Linked DNA regions of Homo sapiens. The protein of the gene in region 1 interacts with the protein of each later gene in a pairwise test. Each region holds a gene or a part of one and is shown in the gene's direction. Other genes may lie near its edges. The genes, in order: HCK, MID2, FHL5, WFS1, PLEKHG4, ZSCAN4 and SH2B2.

Region 1 (3,500 bases):
GACCGACCCCTTCACTGTGTGTTGAGGGGAGGGGTCAAGCAGCATCCCCCGGTACATCCAAGACCGAAGGCCGAGGTCACAGCTCAAGAAACCTGGATCCTGGCTGGGCACAGTGGCTCACTCCTGTAATCCCAGCACTTTGGGAGGTCAGGAGTTCTAGACCAGCCGGGCCAACATGGTGAAACCCCATCTCTACTAAAAATACAAAATTAGCCAGGCATGGTGGCATGCGCCTGTAATCCCAGCTACTTGGGAGGCTGAGGCAGGAGAATCACTTGAACCCGAGAGGTGGAGGTTTCGGTGAGCTGAGATCACGCCACTGCACTCCAGCCTGGGTGACAGAGTGAGATTCCATCTCAAACAACAGCAACAACAAAAAATCTGGACCATTTTGTTTGCTGGCTCTGCCCCTAATGTGCCGTGTGGTGCCAGGCATGTCCCCTGCCGTATGTGGGCCTCCTCCCACGACATGCAGGGCTAGGGTAAGATGCTCTTGGGTGTCCTTCTCAACACAGACCTTCCACGGGTCCCCACACATTGGTCAGATTCATTCTCTTCTCTCATTTCTTCCCCACAGGGGCCTAATAGCCACAACAGCAACACACCAGGAATCAGGGAGGGTAAGTATCTACGAGCAGATGCAGTGGAGTCATGTGTCCTGCAGAGGACTCCGCTAGGTTCTCCCTTAGCTTGAGGCATAAATCCCAAACAGTCAAACCCCTGTCGAGAATCCCCAAAATTTCCTCTGAAGTGCTTTGCGCAGGCTATTGTGTTTCTAGAACGCTGTTTAGTAACATGAACAAAACATATTTAGCTTTAAACTTGAGAATCACACCCAGCATGGTGAGACGCCTACTTATACTTGGAACCACATATCGATGGGTGCGGAGCTGTTCCAGGTGCCGGGTGAGGGTCACCAAGGGCTGTGGATGCACTTAGACGAAACCTCACCCTCTGTGTGTCTCCCTTCCCAGCAGGCTCTGAGGACATCATCGTGGTTGCCCTGTATGATTACGAGGCCATTCACCACGAAGACCTCAGCTTCCAGAAGGGGGACCAGATGGTGGTCCTAGAGGAGTGAGTCCCCATCCCACTCCCCCTAAGACAGACCTGCCTCCTCTACTCAACTATGTGCTCTTTTGTGCTTCCATAAAGAACCTGATAGATGGGCTATCTTATCCTGGGTATAAATGTCTAATGAGAAGCTAATCACAATAGTGGAGGAAGGGTTTGCTGTCAACCTGGATGAAGGGGATTGTGCACTTACTGAGAGTGCACGTCCAGCCTGAGATGAACAGGTGACGCTTTCTCAGGGAAGCCTTTCTAGGGCTCCTGCGATTAAGCCACCGGCTTTACCTGTGGACCAGGCCCCATCGAGTCGACCTTGCATTTGGAAATCCTTGGATCTCTGAGTTTGCCACCTCGGATCTCCTACAGCCTTCACCATCATGGGTATAGTGTCCAGGATGTGCTGAAGCCCGAGAACGGGAGTGGTCATGCCTGGTCGGACTCCCAAGCCCACTCTCCCCTATTCTCAGCCCCAGCTGAACCATTCTGAGTCTCTATAGGCACAGGACCCTGCCATGGGTATAGCTAATAAGACCAAAGCTGCAAGTCCAGGGAAAAGGAGTGGAGCCAGAGACCCAGGGCTCTGGGCTGTGGACAGGGAGATTCCAGACCCTCAGATGCACAGCAGGAACTGTTGTAAGGATCCCTACCCTAATCATGGCCACATGCTGGGGCTGACATAGTCACAGCCCTGTCCTTCACCCTACTGGCTTTCTGGAGGCAGGGAGTTTTCTAGGTCAAGGCTGGGGAGCTTGAGGAGACTGGAGAATGATCCTTCTGTCCCTAACACCTTTACTCCCTCATGTCCCTCAGATCCGGGGAGTGGTGGAAGGCTCGATCCCTGGCCACCCGGAAGGAGGGCTACATCCCAAGCAACTATGTCGCCCGCGTTGACTCTCTGGAGACAGAGGAGTAAGTATCCTATTTCCTACCTTCCAGAAAGAGGCATGAGCAAAGCCAGCCTTGTTTGCAACTCAGGACGTCTGCACACACTGTACCACTGCCTGGCACATACTCTTCCCAGGGCTCTGGGCTTGGCTGGCTCCTTCTCTTCCTTCAGGTTTCATCCTTCCAGTCAGGGAAGAGAGGCTAAAGTGGGTCCCAGCTGTGACTCTGTCTTGTGGAAACCTGTTTTAATCCCTTCTGAACATGTTTTACTAGCAAAACGACCTGGTTTCTTTGGTTGGTTACACGTGCATTCTCTGCCTGCCCTGCAAGGAAGAGAGCTGGTGAGAGCGGGGACTTTGTCTGCTTCTGCATCCTCGGCACAGGCTGGCATGCAGTCAGTGCTCAATAAATATTGTTGAATGAAGCACACGGTCTTGCCAAGGAGGGTTTCTGGAGAGGTGAGACAGCTCACACCTGGCCAGTCGTCCCTCATTTGTTGTTTTGTTTTGTTTTGAGACAGGGTCTCACTCTGTTGCCCAGGCTGGAATGCAGTAGCACCATCACAGCTCACTTCAGCCTCAGCCTCCCTGGGCTCAGTTGATCCTCCCACCTCAGCCTCCCAAGTAGCTGGGACTACAAGTGCGCATCACCATGCCCAGCTAATTTTTTTCTTTTTTGTATTTTTGGTAGAGAGGGGGTCTCTCTGTGTTGCCCAGGCTGGTCTCAAACTCCTGGGCTCAAGTGATCTTCTCGCCTCAGCCTCCCAAAATGCTGGGATTATAGGCCTGAACCACTGCACCTGGCCCATCCCTCATTTGATTCATTCGACAAGCACATGCTCATGACTCTTCAAGCCCTGTGCCAGCCTAAGGGGCTGTGGAAACAAATAAGATATATCCCTACCCTCAAGGAGCTCTCCATAACCCATCGTTCTTGGCTGTGGGTTCTTCTTGTGTCTAGCTTGACTCTAAAAATATACTTCAGTCATCCATCCATCCATCCATCCATTCATCCATCCATCCATCCATCCATCCATCCATCCATCATCCAACAGATACCTGTTGATTCCCTATTCCAGGGTTAGAAGATGACTTAGATGGGGCTCCCTGCTGGAGATGTTCTCTGTATGGTGGATGAGGTTGATGAGTAAAAAGATGACTACATTGTGGGGTGGCAATACATCCCATTAAAAACCAGCCAATCAAAAGTTGACAAATGACAGTCCCCATTGTTTTGTCTCTTCTGCCTCCTCTTTCTAGCTAGATGGTATTATGGGTTTGGGATGCTTGCCTGTTAAAAATGAAAACGCTTAGGCTTTTCCCATTATAAAGCCACCTCCTTCTGGCTGGGCATGGTGGCTCACACCTGTAATCCCAGCACTTCGGGAGGCCAAGGCACGCAGATCACCTGAGGTCAGGAGTTCGAGACCAGCCTGACCAACAAGGTGTAACCCCATCTCTACTAAAAATACAAAAAAAATTAGCTGGGTGTGGTGGTGCGTGCCTGTAGTCCCAGCTACTCGGGAGGCTGAGGCAGGAGAATCA
Region 2 (2,636 bases), on another chromosome or scaffold:
CAGCAGAAACATGATTAACAATTTTAATGCCCAGAGTAAACAACAGAAATTTTTCTTAAATTAAAGGAATAGTGTGAAAATGCTGTAAGTACAGAAAATGCAACCTCCATTCCAGTAGAACAATTTCCTTTGCCTTGTCCTTGGCTCTCCAAAACTGTTCATTTATTGTGGTGTCTTTTAGATTTTAGTGCCCTGGGACAAAGATCTAATTTCCCCACCCTACTTTTGACTCTATCCTGGACTACCTTTCCTCACCTCTATCTCTCTCAACCAGACTAACTCTTTATTCCTTAGACTTGATGATGCATCCCTCTTTAGAGATCCAAAGACACCCCAAGCATCCCCCTCTCTCAGCAATAATCACATTGTATAGCAGTGTTTTTCAAAGTGTGGTCCTCACACCGCCTGTGTTAGAATCACCTTTAGTGTTTGTTAAAAGAATTGATTTTGGGTTCCCACTCCTGACCTAACCAGAATATCTGAGAACATAGGCAGGAATTTACATTTTTGACAAGCTCCTCATGATTCTGATGCACCAAAAATTTTAATGAATAATCATCTTCCCTACTAGACTGAACACCTTGAGAGGAAGGACTGTGTCTTTTATTGTTGTTATATTGTTAATACCTGGCACAGTGCTTGGAACATTAGCTTGGCTAATGTTTATTGAATGAATGTATGAATGAAAAAATGCATTATGAAAGTTTCCTCTTGTACTCTCATGTTCGTAGTGATGTTTGTTACTTCCTGGGCAGAAAAGCTTGGTTACTACTCCATTTGAGCTGTATTAATTCTATTTTGCAGAGATATCAAGGCTCCTACATAATAAATGATCATTGTCCTCCTCAAAAACTCTTTGGCAGTTATCTTGGGGAAATGTCTTTGGAGCATATGGCACCATTGTTTTCAGTAACATTTCAGTCTTGTCAAACTTTGTTGTTTGAAGGTGGATTTACATTTCGGTTATAGCCAAAAATCACTCAAAGCTAAGCCTACTTAAAAAAGTGGGGAATTAAACTGGGTTTGGAGTAAGCAATGAAGTTTGACTCTGAAGTCCCAAATTCTGAGTCAAACAGTGAAAAATGACTTCTAAGATACAACATGGTGACAAAGTACTTAGTGGGGGTGCGATGGGCCCCAGATATTTACTTCAGTTAACTTGGCTTTTATAGAATCCTGGCAATGCCATGGACCTTAAGAGAAGTAATTGGCTACCTCTAGCTAAACCCAGCTGGACAAAGAGAATAGGACTTGTATTTAACATTTTCAAAGAAGGTGACTGCATAAGCTTTTGTTGTTGTTGCTCTACTCAACCTGTTCTCCACAACTGTTTCTACCAGAAGATTATTTTATGTCTGCAATTTATGCTTGTTTCCACTTTTTATATTGTCTTATTGAAGAAAGCACAAAAATAATCAAAAATAAAGTAAAACCTGTTTTGAGAGTATGAAAGAAATTTTAATGCCACATTGAGGTTCTGGCTACTTGTAAGTAAGAGTAACTGCATCTGGATGTGTTTTTATTATACAATTCTATGTGTATCTTTAGATGCAGTGAAATTCAGATTGCAGCAAAATCACTTATCTGTTCTTTTCGGCTAAAACACTCTAGGTGAATTTTCTAAACTTCCATGGTTTACATATTTATATATGACTACCAAGATGGAGCAATCCACGGATGGACTTTTGAATAAACTCAAATATTTGATACTGCTTCCTCCAAGGAATGGAGAGTGTCAGGCAGGTAGGTAAGAACCACTCCTACACTTATTTCTAGCTCCTGAAGCCAACTGCAGCCTTGGAGCCAATGGCTGTATTTGGCTGTGTGTTACAGGTTGGCCAAACTGATTGCCATCAGGTCAGACAAAACTGCCTTTTATGGTGTAGTCTGCCAGCTTCAGACATATGCTGTATTGTTGTTATTGGCTAGACTATTTATTAGACTATTGTTGGACTATTTTTTATCAAATGCTTTACCCCACGCCTGTTTGTATTGGGAGCTCTGGACCAATAGTGTCTCTCCTAGTGACAGAAATATGAGCATCTGTGGATTACACAGCCTCATCCCTCTCTACAATATTCCAGCCCATCCAAAATGCTATATTATGAATTAAATAAATATATATGTATTCATGAATTCTTTGTTGTCTCTCGCTGGAGTTGAATTGGGGGAGGACTAAAAGGAAGATGGCCGTGGATTCTCCTGGAATTGGGTAAGTGACTAGGGGAAACCAAGGATCATATAATAGGTAGTGATCTGGACAGAAAGGACCCAGGGGGTCTGGAGCTCAAAATCCAATCAAGAAGACTTTGATTTCAGGAGCATGATATGGTCAAGAAGACCAAAGAAATGAAGATATAGGGTTCAAGGAAACATGACACATTCAGTTTTAGAGATTGGAGCAGAAGTTGAGAATTAAAGAACAAATAAAATCCCAGTGCTGGAACCCATTGATTAAGATTAGGGTAGCACCAGAAGCAAGTGAGCTGACTTACTGTTAAAACAGCTGGCCTGCAGGAGGAGACTGGGAGGAAGCCAGGAGGTCCCTCAGGGCTAGAATTGGGCATATCTTAATCAGATTTGTAGTGGCACTAAGACTAAAAGGGATCATGCGATATGAAGTGAATGAAGCAGGG
Region 3 (3,500 bases), on another chromosome or scaffold:
TTCCCTCACGCTACTAGCACAACCTACTGACATGAGAGTCCCAGGAGTGTTCAGTTTTGTTTCATAAAATGGCCTGTATTGTCACAACCACATTTAATTAACTTTTATTTACTGTCTCAAAGGATCTTTGTTACAAAGACCGGCACTGGCATGAAGGATGCTTCAAGTGCACCAAATGCAATCACTCTTTGGTGGAAAAGCCTTTTGCTGCCAAGGATGAGCGCCTGCTGTGCACGGAGTGCTATTCTAACGAGTGCTCCTCCAAGTGCTTCCACTGCAAGAGGACCATCATGCCTGGTAGGGTCTCAAGGGGGCTCCTGTCTCTAACTGAAGCTGTGATGCTTTTCATTAAGTCCCAGCACATGAGGAGTGCAGCAGCTCCCAAAACCCTGGTTTTGAGAAAGATATCTTTCTTACTCTCTCAATCTTCTTCCGTGTACTTTAGAAATAAAAAGATTATTCATTCATTATCCTTGAACAGGTAAATTACAGTGTTCTGTGTATTTTCATATAGTCTAATTCATAGAAACATTTCAAACCAGAATCTTACCCATAAAATAAAGACAAAATGTATACCAATAACACTACATTAAACACAGTGCCCTAGGCACAATCAATGGCATCAGAAAGAGTGATTCATCATAGGCGATTGGGGCCAACTGCCATTTTGTAGCTTGACACAAACTGTTTTGAGGATCGGTTATTGTTATTCTCTCTTAGGGAAGACAGGGTTCATGTATATCATTCCACTTTTGGCAAGGACTAATTCTTTATATTTTGATCTTCTCAATCTCTATGGTCAGCAGCATAAGAACATAATTCATTCTCTGCCACTCTTGCTCTCTCATTTTCTTATTATGGATTCAGAGAATTTCTAGAAGGCCATAACTGCACAGTATAGTCTCAGTAGTTGTGCTCTGGGCATTTTTAATACCCTTGTAATGATTATTATGGCCCAATTTATCCAAACCATGTGAAACCATTAGGAGTCTCCATTAAAAGTACTTTTACATCTCCAGATTATAGGTTATGCAGAGCTTGAAAAAGTTTTCAGTCTAAGAGTGATTCTCCATCATCATGGCTAAACTTTATTAACCATTTTTTTTTCTCCAGATGAATGGGTTTTTTTGAACCTGAAAAAATACTATTTTTCTAAAAGGACAATTCATTTATCATCTTAACTTAAAACGTTTTTAAGTAATTTGATCTGTATTTGCTTAAAAAATAAAATTATGCTTGACTTATACTAACATGGCCTTACTTTTGGAGTACAGGTTCCCGCAAAATGGAATTTAAGGGAAACTACTGGCATGAAACCTGTTTTGTGTGTGAGAATTGCCGACAACCTATAGGGACAAAGCCTTTGATCTCCAAAGAGAGTGGCAATTATTGTGTGCCATGTTTTGAGAAGGAGTTTGCTCACTACTGCAACTTTTGTAAGAAGGTAATTTTCTAAAGAGGGTGAAGCTTGTGGAAACTCAGACTATTTCTTTTTAGCTGTATCATATATTTAGAATGAACTGATACTATTATGTTATATCTGTAATCAACACACCCATGGTAGTTTGGACTTTCAACATGTCCAAACCACTAGTTGTCACGATGAGCATGACCATCTTTTTTTTTTTTATTAACCATAAAATTCCAGCCACAACAAGAATTTAATATTCCAAACAGCTCAAGTGATTTGGTATTCCAGTTCATTTCACTGTTTTTTGTTGTTGTTGTTGTTTTATTTTTTTGGGATGGAATCTCGCTCTGTCACCCAGGCTGGAGTGCAGTGGTACAATCTCGGCTCACTGCAACCTCTGCCTTCCAGGTTCAAGAGATTCTCATGTCTCAGCCTTCCAAGTAGCTGGGATTACAGGTGCGTGCCACTGTGTCCAGCTAATTTTTGTATTTTTAGTAGAGACAGGGTTTCACCATGTTGGCTAGTCTGGTCTCGAACTCCTGACCTCAGGTGATCCACCTGCCTTGGCCTTCCAAAGTACTGGGATTACAGGCATGAGCCACCACACTCGGCCCATTCACTGCTTTTATACAAGATCTCACGTATTCTGGGAGAAAGCACAGGTCTCTCTTTGAATACAGATGTTTCTTAAAAAATAATGTTTGATCTATTCAGTATTAACTGTTTCAGAGAAATATGGATTTGCCTCACAAAGTGACTAAGGGAACCAAGTTAAACAGGATGTTTAACTTCTCACATTCTTTCTCAGCAATGCAAATGTCTTCTTGACTTGAAGCTTTTGTATTTCCTATGAGTAGGGCAATCGGCTCAAGAGAGTGCCAAGATCATGGGGGAAGTTCAGTAGACAAAAGACAGAAAGAAGACTAAGAGCAGCAAGTTCCTTCACTCCAGTTCCAGGATCATGTAGGGCCTTCTGACTTGGCTTCCCACTCAAAAAAAACATTTTCTAAGAGAAAAAAAAAGTAATATTTTTGAAGTAAACTTCATCCAATTCTTTTTTTATCCTCTAAGCTTTTATGTGAAAAAGTAGCTCTAACACCTTGATGAAGCCTGTCTGCATTCCATAAAATATATATGGAGGTTCTCAAAGAAATCCTTGACCTGCGAGGCATCATAAGTTTAAAATGACACCATAAATTGTCATGAGAAAGCTGAATCATGAAAATACATTGGATTAGTATAGTGGTTTCAAAGTATTTTTTATCTGTGGGTTACTTTGGCAGAACTCTTAAGCCCATTTGTATATCTGGACAGCTGGAAGTCACACTACCACTTTCTATGCACACATATGTGAACACACATGCACATACACACACACACACACACACGCAGTTAACTGTTTAACATACATAACCAATACCACTACTGCATTTAAAGAGGCAGCAATACACTATGCTAAGTTATCATTATTAAATTACACTATGTTGATGGCTGAGAATTACAATTGATCACATGACATAAAATAATCTTATGACTGAGACCTTCATTACTCTACCAAAACACTGGCTTAGAAGGTGACTTTACAAGCAGCAATCAAGCCATATGACATATGAAGCTCCAAAGAATTACCAGGGTCAATGACGGCATTTAAAAACATGCTGGAGCTGGGCATGGTGGCTCACGTCTGTAATCCCAACACTTTGGAAAGCCAAGGTGGGAAGATTGCCTGAGGCCAGGAGTTCAAGACCAGCCTGGGCAACATAGTGACACCCTGTCTGTATAAAAAAAAAAAAAAGTTTAAAAATTAGCCAAGTATGGTGACACGTGCCTGTAGTCCCAGCTACTTGGGTGGCTGAGGCAGGAGGATCACTTGGGCCCAGAAATTCAAGGCTGCAGTGAGCTATGATTGAGCCACTGTACTCCAGCCTGGGTGACAATGAGATCCTATCTCTAAAAAATATACAAAACTTAAAAACTAAAGAAAATAAAATCTTGCTGGAAATAAAATGAATAGGTTTATCTCACTGTTTTGAGAGACAACTGAGTTGGCCAATTTTAGGCTGCATTTCTTAAAGACAGACTAAAACAG
Region 4 (3,500 bases), on another chromosome or scaffold:
AGCAGCATGTGAGGGCCTCTGTTGAATAAAATAAAGCCCTTGCTCCGGCGTGACACGGGTCACGGGATCTCTGCTCACTCTAGTCTCTTCTGATGCCCCCACCGCACTGTTTGCCTTAGTTTGCTTTTTACTCTCTGTGTTGGTTTCTGGGGCATCAGTCCTCTGACTTCGGTGCTGTGGCTTGGGCCTGGGGTGGGGGCTGTGGAGCGGCAGATCTGGGTATGAATCCCAGCTCCACCCATTTGGCTCCCTCTCTTCTCTCCCCTGCCCTCTTCTCCCCTCCCCAGCTCCCTTCCCCTCTCATATTTACTTAACTTTACTCAGTACCAGCGTATTAGTTTTCTAGGGCTTCCGTAAGAAACTACTGGAAACTTGGTGGCTTAAAACAACAGAGGTTTGTTCTCTGATGGTTCTGGAGGCAGAAGTCTGAAGTCAAGGTGTGGGCAGGGTGGGTCCCTCCTGGAGGCTCTGAGGGAGGCTCAGTTCCTCGCCTCTGTCCAGCTTCTGGCAGTGGCCAGTGGTCCTCCTGCTCCTTGGCCACTGTCACCCGTCTCCGCATGGCTCTGTTACACTTCTCTTCCTATAGGCCATCAGCTCTTGGAGCCAGGGCTTCCCTACTCCAGGCTGATCTCATTTCAAGATCCTTAAATACATCTTCAAAGACCTGTTTTTCCAAATAAGGGCACATTCACAGACATTGGTGGGCACATGATGTGGGGCCCAATTCAGCCCCCTGCAGCCAGGCTCCACATGGGTGGGCTCTGGGTGTTGCTATCATCATCCCCGTTTCTTGGATGAGGGAAGGCCAGGGTTGTGTGGCTCATGCCCAGTGAGGCAGGGACTCCAGGCCTCGGCATGTGCAGGTCTGAGATTGTAAGTGCCATGCCATCTGTAGAGTCACGTGGGTGAGTGTCCTCCCATGGTTTCCTCCCTGGAAGCGGTGCTGGCCCATGGGGACTGTACTGAGTGTCAGCGAGATCCTGTATGGAGTGTCTGGCAGCTCCCACCTGCCTCCCTCTGCTTTTCTGTCTCCAGCAGACACTAAGTGCCAGAGCGGGCTCTGCCGGTGCTGGATGTGCCTGACCTTGACTTTTCTTCCAGGCAGGATGGACTCCAACACTGCTCCGCTGGGCCCCTCCTGCCCACAGCCCCCGCCAGCACCGCAGCCCCAGGCGCGTTCCCGACTCAATGCCACAGCCTCGTTGGAGCAGGAGAGGAGCGAAAGGCCCCGAGCACCCGGACCCCAGGCTGGCCCTGGCCCTGGTGTTAGAGACGCAGCGGCCCCCGCTGAACCCCAGGCCCAGCATACCAGGAGCCGGGAAAGAGCAGACGGCACCGGTAAGGGAGCAGGCTGGGAAGCCCAGGCTGGGGATGTTCAGGGATAGCTGGGTGGGAACGGGGTTCAGCCACCCCTGGAGGGTCCCCCCGCCAGGTCCTCTGCAGTTCAGCATTGTGCAGCTCCCATGCTGTGCACAGGCGTCCATCCAGTGGGGCTACCCACCTCCTCAGAGCCTTGCACCTGTCACCTTTGTGGCACCCACTCGAGGTGGTGCTGGTGCCCCCACTCCTCTGCAGTCCTTCTCTTCCCAGGGCCTCTGCAGCACTTCACAGCTTCCATTTGCAACAGCGTCCAAACATGTGGAGTAAATTCACGGGCCCTCTGTAACCAACTAGGGTGGCAGGCCAGAGGTGACAGCCACACTCTCGGGAGTGAGGCCACATGCGGGCGAAGCCCTTGGTGCTGAGTTTCCCCTCTCCCTGAGGGAGACTTGTGAGGGACGGGCGTCCTTCACCTCCATCCTGAGGCGGGATGCTGGGGCCCTGGGTGTTCACAGGCAGAGCTGACTGAGGCCCTTGGTCTTCACAGGCCGAGCTGACTGAGGCCCTGGGTGTTCAAAGCAGAGCTGAGGCCCTTGGTGTTCACAGGCAGAGCTGACAGGCTTGTTGGTTCCTGGGTGGTGATGTGAGGGTGGTGGGTGTGAGCCAGGGGAGTCCGGCCCCTGGGCACCTTCTCCAGCTGACTCAGGCCTCGGTCAGCCTTCACTTTTGCTAGAGAGGCCGCTGCCAGGGAGGCTCAGTCCCAGCTCATCACTGCCCCTCCTGCCCATGCAGAAGCCCCAGACCCATGGTGAGTGCCTGCTGTGTACACCAGCCTTTTCCATGTGCCTGCAGGACTCCTCATGGCAGTCCTGAGAGGGGAAACTGAGACACCGAGTCTAGGTGACTTGCCCAAGAGACCCAGCGGGTGAGAGACGAGGTGCTCGAGTGGTCCAGGTTTCCTTCTTGTCCCAGTCACCCCACTGGCAGGGCCGTGGGGCCTCCCTGCTGTGGTCGCAGCGCGCTGAGGCTCCCATGTACCACTTATGCTGGGCGTGCCCTTGGAAACTCACTGCAGCCCTGGGCCCTGTTTGTCTTTGCATCTCCTTAAAAGATCACTGTGCTCCTCTGCTTTGTTTTGGAGGCCTCTGGGCGGATGAGGGCCTGACCCCGGGATTTGGGCCCAGCCTCACGGCTTCAGGGGAACAGATACCAGGGCTCGGAAGCTTGGTTTCAATCTGGGTAATGAGAACAGCCCGCAAAGGACAGAGTCCAAGACTGTGTGTTTCAGATAAGAAGAGTCAGGAAGCAGCTGTGGTTTGTTTGGCTTCGGTCTCCAATGTGGGGGTGGTGAAGAGCAAGCCCTGGGCGCCGCCTGACAGCCCAGTCCCCACCACTGGGCCTGCAGCTGGGGGCAGTGGGCATCCCGTCTCCCAGTCACTGGTCACTGATGTGGCCAAAGCAGGCCTGGCCCTGCATGCCCAGTGGCCGCAGGGAGGGCAGGGCCCAGGGTCCCTGCCAGTAGCAGCTGCTGCGAGAATCTGTTATTTAGCTCCCCCATCCAGCCAACATAGGTGGGTGAGCATCAGTTGAAATACCAATAGGTAACAACAAGGGTAGCTATTTAACTGACACTTCCCCGAGCTAGGCATCTTTTTAGGGCATTAGCCCACTTGCCTCTTTAACAGCCCTGGGAGGCAGGCTCTGCTGCTGCCCTGTTTTTCAGATGGGAAACCGAGGGATAGAGGGCTTAAGTAGATGACCCAGCGTCCCGTGGTTGGTGAAGGGTGGAGGGGAGATTTAAACATACCGTGGAGCCTGTGCTCACTATGGGCCTCAGGTCATCTGCGCCCAGGGATCCCCATGTCCCAGGCTCAGAGAAGTGCACAGAGCAGGTTGGCCTGTCCCTAGATCAGTGCCTGGCCAGGCCCTGGTGACAGGAGTGAAGGCTCAGTCCTGCCCTCCGGGAGCCCTGAGCAATATGGGAGACAGGAGTGAACAAGGAACTACATTCTGGGGCTCATGTAGCGCGGGGGACAACCCACATTGCAGTCCCCTAGGGGCACCCCAGGAGGGCCTGGTCACTCTTCAGGGCATCAGGAAGACTGCCTGGAGGAGGCATCGTCGGAGCCCCATCTGAGCTGCTCCTTGGCCTGTACACTTGGGAAACAGGAGAAGAGCAG
Region 5 (3,500 bases), on another chromosome or scaffold:
GGAGCTCAGTCTGAGGGCAAGGGGCTTCTTCCTTGGGGGCCTGTGGGCACACCCCCTTTGCCCAGTACTGTTCTTGCCAAATCACCCCTTGTTCAAAGCAGGGAAGACTGGGTCTGTAGGGGAGGCCTCCCTAAGAGGCATCTACTGGCATTTTGGTCCTCTCAAGCTGAGGGTGGTCTAGCCTGTGCCAGCCTTAGGGAGCTGGCCCCTTTGCACTGGGGCTGAGCCACATGTCCTTGTAGAGGGTGCAGTTTGGGATGTACGCGCTCTACAGCAAGAATAAGCCTCGCTCCGATGCCCTGATGTCAAGCTATGGGCACACCTTCTTCAAGGTAAGTGAACCTGAGATTAGGAGGAGTAGGGGATGCGGGGAGTGCCCCCAAACCACTCAGTGGCCTCCCATCCGCCCACAGGACAAGCAGCAAGCACTGGGGGACCACCTGGACCTGGCCTCCTACCTGCTAAAGCCCATCCAGCGCATGGGCAAGTACGCACTGCTGCTGCAGGAGCTGGCACGGGCCTGCGGGGGCCCCACGCAGGAGCTCAGTGCGCTGCGGGAGGCCCAGAGCCTTGTGCACTTCCAGCTGCGGCACGGAAACGACCTGCTGGCCATGGACGCCATCCAGGGCTGTGATGTGAGTCATCCCAGGGCAAGGGCAGTGGGTGTGAAGAAGAAGGCAGAAGAGGCTGGCCACCCACCAGCCCCCAACTCTGCAGGTTAACCTCAAGGAACAGGGGCAGCTGGTGCGACAGGATGAGTTTGTGGTGCGCACTGGGCGCCACAAGTCCGTGCGCCGCATCTTCCTTTTTGAGGAGCTGCTGCTCTTCAGCAAGCCTCGCCATGGGCCCACAGGGGTTGACACATTTGCCTACAAGCGCTCCTTCAAGGTAGGCCTGCCCACCCCAGGCCCCACCACTTGTTTTCCCGCCCCATGCCTTACCAAGCCCCTCTCTCCCGCTGGCCACAGATGGCAGACCTTGGTCTCACTGAGTGCTGTGGGAACAGCAACCTGCGCTTCGAGATCTGGTTCCGCCGCCGCAAGGCCAGGGACACCTTTGTGCTGCAGGCCTCCAGCCTGGCTATCAAGCAGGCCTGGACAGCTGACATCTCCCACCTGCTTTGGAGGCAGGCCGTCCACAACAAGGGTGGGTCCATGCCCCTCCTTCACGCCACACTCCCCTCACTGGAGAGCTTACATTGACCCACAGGAGCCCAGAGACCTGGGAAAAGCTCGGGAAGTGGGGAGAAGGCCCAGCGACAGCCACCAGTGCAGGAGAAAGGATTTCAAAGCCAGGCAGCCTTGCTGTCACTGCCTCTGACTTTGGACACAACGTGAACTTCTCTGAATATAAGGGGCATCATGGCTCTCTCTCTCTTTATTTTTGGAGACAGGGTCTCGCTCTGTCGCCCAGGATGGCGTGCAGTGGCATGATCTTTGCTCATTGTAGCCTCTGCCTCCTGAGCTCAAGCATTCTTCCCACCTAAGCCTCCCAAGTAGCTGAGACTACAGGCATGTGCCACCATGCCTAATTTGTAAAATTTTTTCATAGAGGTCTCATTATATTGCCCAGACTGGTCTTGAACTCCTGGGCTCAAACAATCCTCCTACCTCGGCCTCCCAAAGTGTTGGGATTACAGGCGTGAGCCACTGCGCCCAGCCAGGGGCCTCATCTTTAAAAGGGGAATATGGCACCTGCCCCACAGGATTGTTGGGAGGAGAGCACCTGGCACTAGAAAGGCTCAGCTCACAGGACAGTTAATGTGCTGGATGGAGGTGTACAGGAAAGACTTATCTGGGGGGTGGTAGAGGCCCAAGGACAGGCTTATGTCCAGAAGCATCCCACTTATGTCCACTCTCCACCCAGAGGTGCGCATGGCTGAGATGGTGTCCATGGGTGTGGGGAACAAGGCCTTCCGAGACATTGCTCCCAGCGAGGAAGCCATCAACGACCGCACCGTCAACTATGTCCTGAAGTGCCGAGGTAGCAGGCAGGCTACAGGGTGTGGGGGTGGGAGTAGGAAAGCTGTGCGGGAAGCACTGTGGCCCTCCATTAGTGCTGGCCCGCACTTTCCTTGGGATCTGGGGCCAGGCTAGGCTCTGGCCTGTCCCAACCTGACCCTCTCTCTTATGCAGAAGTTCGCTCTCGGGCGTCCATTGCCGTAGCCCCGTTTGACCATGACAGCCTCTACCTGGGGGCCTCGAACTCCCTTCCTGGAGACCCTGCCTCTTGCTCTGTTCTGGGGTCCCTCAACCTGCACCTGTACAGAGACCCAGCTCTTCTGGGTCTCCGCTGTCCCCTGTATCCCAGCTTCCCAGAGGAAGCAGCACTGGAGGCTGAGGCAGAGCTGGGCGGCCAGCCCTCTTTGAGTATGTCTGGGCCTAGCCAGAGGCAGGAGGGCATGGCTTGGGGTCTGGGGCTTCCCGTGCTGACAGTTCACCCAGTCTCCCTCCCTAGCTGCTGAGGACTCAGAGATCTCGTCCCAATGCCCATCAGCCAGTGGCTCCAGTGGCTCTGACAGCAGCTGTGTGTCAGGGCAGGCCCTGGGTAGGGGCCTGGAGGACTTACCCTGTGTGAGTGCCATTTGCCCTATACCCACCAGCCCTTCCCCAGCCCAAGCTGAGCCTGTGACTGTGACCAGCCCCTCCCCAGCCCAGGCTAGGCCTTTACTTTGGGTAGAGCTTGGGGTGGGTGGGCCAGAGCCATTCCCCAGACACCTCCTGGGTCCAGAGTCAGGGAAGCAGGCATTCATGCCTGGCCTGGCCCTGCAGGTCTGAGCCCGGGACTGGACGAGCAGTAGATCCAGCAGCCTGCAGCTCCAAGGAACATTGCCTCTCTGGATCTGCTGTGACCAGGGTGTGGCTGACACCTGGGCTACCTCCAACCTACATGTGCAACGCTGTTGACTACCCTTTCTGATGTGTGTGGCCATTGGACTAACTGGCACGGGGCCTCTCTAGGGAAGTCTGGTTGTAGAGCCTGAATAGGCTCCTGGCCCCATGACCCCTTCTCCTGTCCCCAGCTCCCATCCCAGTTGTGGGTTAAGAATAGGCTAGAGCAGACATTGGGTGTTTCCATGCTGTAGGCTGGTGGGGGACCATGTGCCTCTAGGCAGTGACTAGGGTGCCCCCACCCCTCAGGAAGAACACAGGTGGGCTCCTAGCAGCTGATCCCCAATGCCTGGCCTTAAAGCCGAGCTCAGTTACCATAGGGACAGGTCCACCTCTACTGGGCCCTCATGCTTGCCTTTCCTGGCCCCCAGGCCCAGCCCCTTTTTACTGGGGCAGTTTCGTTATTTTGACTTGATGCCTTTTGAATAACTTTCAATAGAATTGTCTAAAATTATCTTACTGGTTGTTAGGCCTTTGGTGTCTCAGAGAAGGAGTCTAGGTCTTTGATGTGTGATTTAATCTTTTATTTGTTTATAATAAAAAATAGACTGATATGTACCCTCTGATGGGCACATGCATTCTGGGCTATCTCCAATTAAAATGAGACTT
Region 6 (3,500 bases), on another chromosome or scaffold:
TATGGCATGAAATTTGCTTTTTTCAAAATTGCACAAATCTTTGAAATGTTAACCATATATAAAATTGGAGAAAAAACACAAAAATAGCAATGATATATTAACAGAAAAGGGATTAAATTCTTTATCCATTCAGGATTTCAAAGGGTGTGTCTCTAGTTGTCCAGATAATCTGATTTGGGATTAGAAATCAATTTCAAGCAATGCAAACTCACTTTTACTTCTGAATCCTAAACATCAGTAGGAAAGGACAGGGAGTAAAAACAGATAAACATAAAATAGTAGCTTTGGTTAAAGCAGTAAAGTTCTAAGGAATGGTAACTGTTAATGGGAAAAAAATTCAAGCAGAAAAGGTGCTAAGAATGTTTCCTAAGGAATGTATCCTTTCACAACACAGTGGGTGTAGCTGGTAGTGGCCTTGCAGATGTCTGTGCCTAATAAGTTTTCAGCCAGAGAAAGGTGTCATTTGTATGGATTCTGGCTTGTCTTTTCTATTTCATTCACTTCTTTCTCTTTTTCTTGTTTTCCCTAGCTTTATTGAGGTATAATTGACAAAGATTGTATATATTTAAGGTGTACAATGTGACACTTCTCTCTCTATATATATGTATACTTTGCAAAATGATTACCACGATCAAGCTAGTTAACATATTCATCACCTCACATAGTTATCTTTTTTTTTTTTTTTTGAGACAGAATCTTGCTCTGTCACCTAAGCTGGAGTACAGTGGCGTAATCTCAGTTCACTACAACCCCCACCTCTCAGGTTCAAGTGATTCTTGTGCCTCAGCCTCTCAAGTAGCTGGGATTACCGGTGCATGCCACCACACCCAACTCATTTTTGAATTTTTAATAGAGGTGGGGTTTCACCATGTTGCCAGGCTGGTCTTGAACTCCTGGCCTCAAGCGATATGCCCACCTCTGCCTCCCAAAGCACTGGGATTACAGGGGTGAGCCAATTATCTTTTTTATATCATGAGAACACTGAAAATCTAGCAAATTTCAAGCATACAATATATATTAGCTATAGCCACCATGCCGTACATCAGATCTCCAGAGCATATTCATTTTTTTTCCCTAGCCTGAGAAGGACATGGTGACATTTAATTAATTAATTTATTTATTTATTTATTTTGAGATGGAGTTTCACTCTGTCGCCCAGGCTGGAGTGCAGTGGCACGATCTCGGCTCACTGCAACCTCCATCTCCTGGGTTCAAGCGATTCTCCTGCCTCAGCCTACCGAGTAGCTGGAATTACAGGTGTGCACCACCACAGCCAGCTAATTTTTGTATTTTTAGTAGAGAAAGGGTTTCACCACGTCTCATCTCAAGTGATACGCCTGTCTCGGCCTCCCAAAGTGCTGGGATTACAGGCGCGAGTCACCGTGCCCGGCCACATATTTATTTTATAAATGAAAGTTTGCCATAGGCATAGTAGCTCACGCCTGTAATCCCAGAAAGGCTAGAGTGAGGAGCAGTCACTTGAGTCCAGGAGTTCAAGACAACCTGGACAAAATAGCGAGACCAAGTCTCGAAAAGAAAATTTTTAAAAAATTAGCTGAGTGTGGTGCGTGCCTGTAGTCCCAGCTACTCAAGACGCTAAGGCAGGAGGATCGCTTGAACCCAGGAGGCTGAGGCTGCAGTGAGCTGTCATGGCACCACTGCACTCTAGCCTGTCTGACAGACGGAGACCCTGTCTCAAAATAAATCAAGTTTGCACCATTTGATCAACATCTTCCCATATGCCCCACCCCATGCCCCTGGCAACCACCCTTCTACTCTCAGTTTCTAATACTTTATTTTCTGATGATGATGATGATTATTATTATTATTATTATTATTGAGACAGAGTTTCTGTGTTGCCTAAGCTGAAGTGCAGTGGCCCAATCTCAACTCACTGCAACCTCTGCTTCCCAAGTTCAACCCATTCTCCTTGCTCAGCCTCCCGAGTAGCTGCGATTACAGGCATGCACCACCACATCTGGCTAATTTTTATATTTTTAGTAGAGACGGGGTTTCGCCATGTTGGCAAGGCTGGTCTTGAACTCCTGGTTTCAAGTGATCTGCCCGCCTCGGCCTCCCAAAGTGTTGGGATTACAGGTGTGAGCCACAGTGAAAAGAGTTTTTTTGTTTTAATTTCAACTGCTTGTGATAACACAATATTACAATATTCAGTTCATTTTGGTTTATTGGCATTGTAATAGACATCTCCCTAAATTCACCTAGGCTAATATTTGGTGAATATTTTATTTTATTTTAGATTCAGGGAGTACATGTGCATGTTTGTTACAAAAGTATTCTGCATATTGGTGGAAATTGGACTTCTAGTGTACCTATTACTTAAATAGTGAACATTGTACCCAATGGGTAATTTTTCAATACCCATTTCCCTCCCAACTCCCCCGCTGGAGTCCCCAGCATCTGTTATTTCCATCCTTATGTCCATGTGTACCCACTGTTTAGCTTCTACTTATAAGTGAGAACATGCGGTATTTGGTTTTCTGTTTCTGAGTTAGTTCACTTAAGATAATGGCCTCCAGCTCCAACTATGTTGCTGCAAAGGACTAATTTCATTCTTTTTTATGGCTGCATAATATTCCATGGTATGTATTTCACATTTTCTTTATCCAGTCAACCACTGGTAGACTCTTAGGTTGGTTCCATGACTTTGCTCCTGTGACTAGTGCTGCAATCAAAATATGAGTGCAGGTGTCTTTTTTTATATAATGATTTCTTTCCTTTTGAGTAGATACTGAGCTGGATCAAATGATGGTTCTATTTTTAGTTCTCTGAGAAATCTCCATACTGTTTTCCATAGAGGTTAACTGATTTGCATCCCCACCAAATTTATTGAATACTCTTTGTAAACAAAATCAAGACTCTATAAATATGTTTGAAATATTTTCTTTCCTTATTTCACTGGTTAGGGAGCAATCCAATGTTTCATAGAGATGATAGCTCAAGCAGAAAACTTTTAACAATAAATTTTGTTGTAACTACTTTATAAAATATTTTTCACATCAAGTTTTTTTTTTTTTTTTTTTTAAGAGTCTCACTCTGTCACCCAGGCAGGAGCTCAGTGGCATGATCCTGGCTCATTGCCACGCCCACTTCCCGGGTTCAAGGGATTCTCCTGCCTCCACCACTGAAGTAGCTGGGTTTACAGGCACGTGCCACCATACCCAGCTAAGTTTTGTGTGTGCGTGTGGCTTTTTTTTTTTTTTTTTTTTTTTTGAGACGGAGTCTTGCTCTGTCAGCCAGGCTGGAGTGCAGTGGCGCAATCTTGACTCACTGCAATCTCCACCTCCCGGGCTCAAGCAATTCTCCCATCTCAGCCTCCTGAGTAGCTAGGACTACAGGTGCATGCCATCATGCCTGGCTGATTTTTGTATTTTTAGTAGAGATGGGGTTTCACCATATTGGTCAGGCTGGTCTCGAAATCCTGACCTCAGGTGATCCACCTGCCTCAGCCTCCCAAAGTGTTGGGATTACAGGCATGAGCA
Region 7 (3,500 bases), on another chromosome or scaffold:
TGGGGTGGGAGTAACCAGGGCCAGTGCAGCTGGAACCAGCTCAGCCTGTCCTCCACCTGCAGAGCCCATCCAGGAACTGTCCAGCACTGGGTGCTCCTGAAGGAGGCTGAGTCTGCCTCTTGAGCCCACAGGCCCTGGCTTAGCTTGTTGTCCTGGCCCCCACTCCCTGCTTATCTGACCCGCACTTCCTGCAGAGCCCAGCTGTGGATTCCCCCGCCCCCCCACCCAGCCGCTCAGAGTGCCCCATCCTCTAAAGGTGGTCATTTCCTTTCCTGAAACAGGGATTCAGTCTTCCCACTCTGCCCTTGGAAGCGGAGTTCCCCAGAAACAGGTCTCAGAAAGGGACCAGCCTGGAACTTGGCTCCATACCCCCCTTTTTTTTTTTTATTTTTTTGAGACAGAGTCTTGCTCTGTCGACCAGGCTGGAGTGCAGTGGCGTGCAACCTCAGCTCCCTGCAACCTCCGCTCCCTGCAACCTCCACCACCTCTGGGGTTCAAGCAATTCTCATGCCTCAGCCTTCTGAGTAGCTGGGGTTACAGGTGTGCACCACCACGCCTGGCTAATTTTTGTATTTTTAGTAGAGATGGGGTTTCACCGTGTTGGCCAGACTGGTCTCAAACTCCTGACCTCAAGTGATCCGCCCTCCTCGGCCTCCCAAAGTGCTGGGATTACAGGTGTGAGCCACTGCACCCGGCCTCCCCTCTTGTCCATTCTGCAGCCCTGGACCCTCCCACCTGGCGTCTGACACACAGTGGGAGCTCACCACTGCGTGGTGGCCAGAGCATGGTGGGTAGTCACCTCCCTCCCCAGAACCCCATTTCTTCATCTCTGCAATGGAGAAACAACTCTTTCTTACAGGGAAGATGTGAGGGGAGAAGGGTTTTAACAGGGGCATGGCCCACTGAAATGTGGGTTCTAGAACGCTGACCTTGGCCACATTGGAGGCTGGGTTTATGTGTTGGGGCAGTGGGTACCTCTGCAGCTGCCTGCCAAGAGCAGTTGGAGGAAAAGGGAATGAATAGAGCTGTGATTTTTAAACAAATTGCTTATTTAATCTTCATGACAGCCCCTTAAGTTTAGCACTGCTGTCACCTCCATCTTAACAGATGGGGAAACTGAGGCTCCAGAGTCCAAGGGGTCATTTCACTGGGTAGCAAGGCAGCTGGGATCCAAACCCAGACAGTCTGGCTCCAGATCTCAGACTTTTAACACTGTCCCAGCATGTCAAATGACCAGAGGTGGCCATAGGGAGATGCCCAGGCAGTGGGGCTCCCTTTGCTGGGGAACAACTGTCAAAGGCAACTGTGGGAACCCCTGGGACTGAGGGTCTGCAGACGCCGGTGCCAGCAGGGCTTGTCAAGCTTGGGATGTCTGCAAAAGCCGGGGGGCTCAGCAGAAGGGCTCCCACCCTCCCGTGGCGGTGGCAAAGGCTGAGCGTGGCATGAGAGGCCTGGGGTTGTCCTGGGTGCAGGGCTGTTGCAATAGCTGCCTCCAAGCGATGCTGCTCAGGCCGAGCCTTGGACTAGAAAGTTATCTGCACGGAAGAGCAGCTAGGGAAACTAATGCTCAGAACAGCCAAGACCACTAGTACCTAATCACCCATACAGAGGCATACAAGTCCCAAGGGCTCTGAATCCACACCTGTCCCCATCGCCAGCCAGAAGGCCCCCACCCATCCACTCTGCAGCAAAGTCACAGCAAGTTCAAGGGTTAAGTTAAGACCAGAAGCCATGCCTACTTTGCCTTCTGCCGGGGTGGTGGAGTGAGCTCAGATATTCTGGGAGGGGAGAGTTGGGGAATTCCAGCCACATCTGGCAGGAGGCCCTGGTTCAGAGCCTACCTTGTGGGGATGTGGTCTCTGCGGAGGTGAGCAGTAACACGGGCTTGAAAACCAACGCCCACGTATTCAGCAGTGAAGCAGAGACTGCGCTGTGTGCTGTGTTCCTGAATCTGCAGGGGAGAGAGAGACTCATACCTAGTCAGCGGGTGGGAGTCACTCCAGGCCGGAGGGATGACCTGCCCAAAGAGCATCTGTGTCCTGCCCAGGGAGGGGTGCAGAGAGGAGGCTGCAGGGGTGGAAGGGACTGCCCCACCGAGGCCAGGAGGGTGCTTGAGGAACAGCAGGATTGAAGGAGCCTATGTTGTCCAGAGTGAGGCTGAGTGGGCCAGGCCAGTGCTGCTAAGGTCCTGAGGACCCCTAAGGGCAGTGGACATGAGAAGGCATGGCTGGGCAGGTTTTCTGAGGATGGTGGAGGTGAGCAGAGTGAGGCCTTGTCTCTTGTGTCAGGCAAGGAGGTACCCCAAGAAGAGGCTGCATGAGACCAGCCTGGGCAACATAGTGAGACCCCCATCTCTACCAAAATATCAAAAAATTACCTGGGACCGGGTGCACTGGCTCACATCTATAATCCCAGCCCTTTGGGAAGCTGAGGTGGGCGGATCACCTGAGGTCGGAAGTTCGAGACCAGCCTGGCCAAGATGGTGAAACCCTGCCTCTCCTAAAAATACAAAAATTAGCCGGGCTTGGTAGGACGCACCTATAGTCCCAGCTACTCGGGAGGCTGAGGCAGGAGAATCGCTTGAACCCAGGAGGCGGAAGTTGCAGTGAGCCAAGATCACGCCATTGCACTCCAGCCTCGGCAACAGAGCAAGACTCCGTCTCAAAAAAAAAAAAAAAAAATTACCTGGCCATGGCGTCTTGTGCCTGTAGTCCCAGCCACTTGGGAGGCTGAGGCAGGAGAATTGCTTGGGCCCAGGAGTTCAAGGCTGCAGTGAGCTATGTTCAAAGTGCAGTGCACTGCACCCCAGCCTGGGCCACAGAGTGAGACTTTGTCTAAAAAGAAAAGGCCTCAGTTTCCCCATAGCGAATGGTTCATTGGGGGGTAGGTGGCACTGCCCACCCCAGGACATAGGAGAGAACCCTTAGTTCTGACCGTCTCCCCCTTCATGCACTTGGTTCTCTGACTGCTGCTCTGAGGACGGAGCTAAGTGAGGGTGCAGGAGGAAGGGGGGGTCTCTTGGCAGTGGGGCGCAGCCTTTTGAGGTGCTGCATAGCTAGTTTGACCTGTGGGACCACTGACCATCCCTCCTCTTCCCGGTGCTCCTGGCCTCCTGTGGCTGGGATGGTGCTGGGGAGGAGGTGGGGGGTGCCAGCTGGAGGTGGGCGGGGCTCCTGCCTCTCCCCGCCCCCAGGGCCACCGCCCACTGTGCCGCGCATCGATTGGTCGCGGGCCCATTAGGCGGGGCGGCGAGTCCGACTCATAAATATTTTAAGGAATGACCCGGCCCTGGGGTGCGGAATTGCTGCGCGGGCGGGGGCTGAAGACCGGCTTTTTTTTTTTTTTTTTTTTTTTGGTCCTCCAATTGTCAGCGCTATTTTTACCGCCGGAAAGCCGCCGCCCCCTCCCCCATGCCGGCTGGACCTACTGTCTAGCCGGGCTGGTGGCTGGGGTCTCTTGTCTGGGTTGCTGGTCGTGGGGTTAGGAGAGGCCGTGGCCTG

The links.
Region 2: the proteins of HCK (region 1) and MID2 interact in binary tests that used the Homo sapiens proteins (3 or more experiments, as listed by UniProt).
Region 3: the proteins of HCK (region 1) and FHL5 interact in binary tests that used the Homo sapiens proteins (3 or more experiments, as listed by UniProt).
Region 4: the proteins of HCK (region 1) and WFS1 interact in binary tests that used the Homo sapiens proteins (3 or more experiments, as listed by UniProt).
Region 5: the proteins of HCK (region 1) and PLEKHG4 interact in binary tests that used the Homo sapiens proteins (3 or more experiments, as listed by UniProt).
Region 6: the proteins of HCK (region 1) and ZSCAN4 interact in binary tests that used the Homo sapiens proteins (3 or more experiments, as listed by UniProt).
Region 7: the proteins of HCK (region 1) and SH2B2 interact in binary tests that used the Homo sapiens proteins (3 or more experiments, as listed by UniProt).

Annotation. Positions count from the first base shown.
Region 1 is NC_000020.11:32,072,742-32,076,241, forward strand, and holds part of HCK (tyrosine-protein kinase HCK), read left to right. Parts: intron 1-577; coding exon 578-620; intron 621-974; coding exon 975-1,077; intron 1,078-1,881; coding exon 1,882-1,980; intron 1,981-3,500. UniProt on the Homo sapiens protein: Non-receptor tyrosine-protein kinase found in hematopoietic cells that transmits signals from cell surface receptors and plays an important role in the regulation of innate immune responses, including neutrophil, monocyte, macrophage and mast cell functions, phagocytosis, cell survival and proliferation, cell adhesion and migration.
Region 2 is NC_000023.11:107,929,502-107,932,137, forward strand, and holds the end of MID2 (probable E3 ubiquitin-protein ligase MID2), read left to right. Parts: 3' UTR 1-2,136; downstream 2,137-2,636. UniProt on the Homo sapiens protein: E3 ubiquitin ligase that plays a role in microtubule stabilization. Mediates the 'Lys-48'-linked polyubiquitination of LRRK2 to drive its localization to microtubules and its proteasomal degradation in neurons.
Region 3 is NC_000006.12:96,604,628-96,608,127, forward strand, and holds part of FHL5 (four and a half LIM domains protein 5), read left to right. Parts: intron 1-122; coding exon 123-297; intron 298-1,274; coding exon 1,275-1,444; intron 1,445-3,500. UniProt on the Homo sapiens protein: May be involved in the regulation of spermatogenesis. Stimulates CREM transcriptional activity in a phosphorylation-independent manner.
Region 4 is NC_000004.12:6,276,350-6,279,849, forward strand, and holds part of WFS1 (wolframin), read left to right. Parts: intron 1-1,101; 5' UTR 1,102-1,106; coding exon 1,107-1,338; intron 1,339-3,500. UniProt on the Homo sapiens protein: Participates in the regulation of cellular Ca(2+) homeostasis, at least partly, by modulating the filling state of the endoplasmic reticulum Ca(2+) store.
Region 5 is NC_000016.10:67,286,032-67,289,531, forward strand, and holds the end of PLEKHG4 (puratrophin-1), read left to right. Parts: intron 1-242; coding exon 243-332; intron 333-413; coding exon 414-635; intron 636-717; coding exon 718-888; intron 889-968; coding exon 969-1,146; intron 1,147-1,866; coding exon 1,867-1,983; intron 1,984-2,135; coding exon 2,136-2,369; intron 2,370-2,444; coding exon of another isoform or gene 2,445-2,457; coding exon 2,458-2,573; intron 2,574-2,771; coding exon 2,772-2,777; 3' UTR 2,778-3,449; downstream 3,450-3,500. UniProt on the Homo sapiens protein: Possible role in intracellular signaling and cytoskeleton dynamics at the Golgi.
Region 6 is NC_000019.10:57,671,935-57,675,434, forward strand, and holds part of ZSCAN4 (zinc finger and SCAN domain-containing protein 4), read left to right. Parts: intron 1-3,500. UniProt on the Homo sapiens protein: Embryonic stem (ES) cell-specific transcription factor required to regulate ES cell pluripotency. Binds telomeres and plays a key role in genomic stability in ES cells by regulating telomere elongation.
Region 7 is NC_000007.14:102,289,868-102,293,367, forward strand, and holds part of SH2B2 (SH2B adapter protein 2), read left to right. Parts: intron 1-3,235; exon of another isoform or gene 3,236-3,320; intron 3,321-3,500. UniProt on the Homo sapiens protein: Adapter protein for several members of the tyrosine kinase receptor family. Involved in multiple signaling pathways. May be involved in coupling from immunoreceptor to Ras signaling. Acts as a negative regulator of cytokine signaling in collaboration with CBL.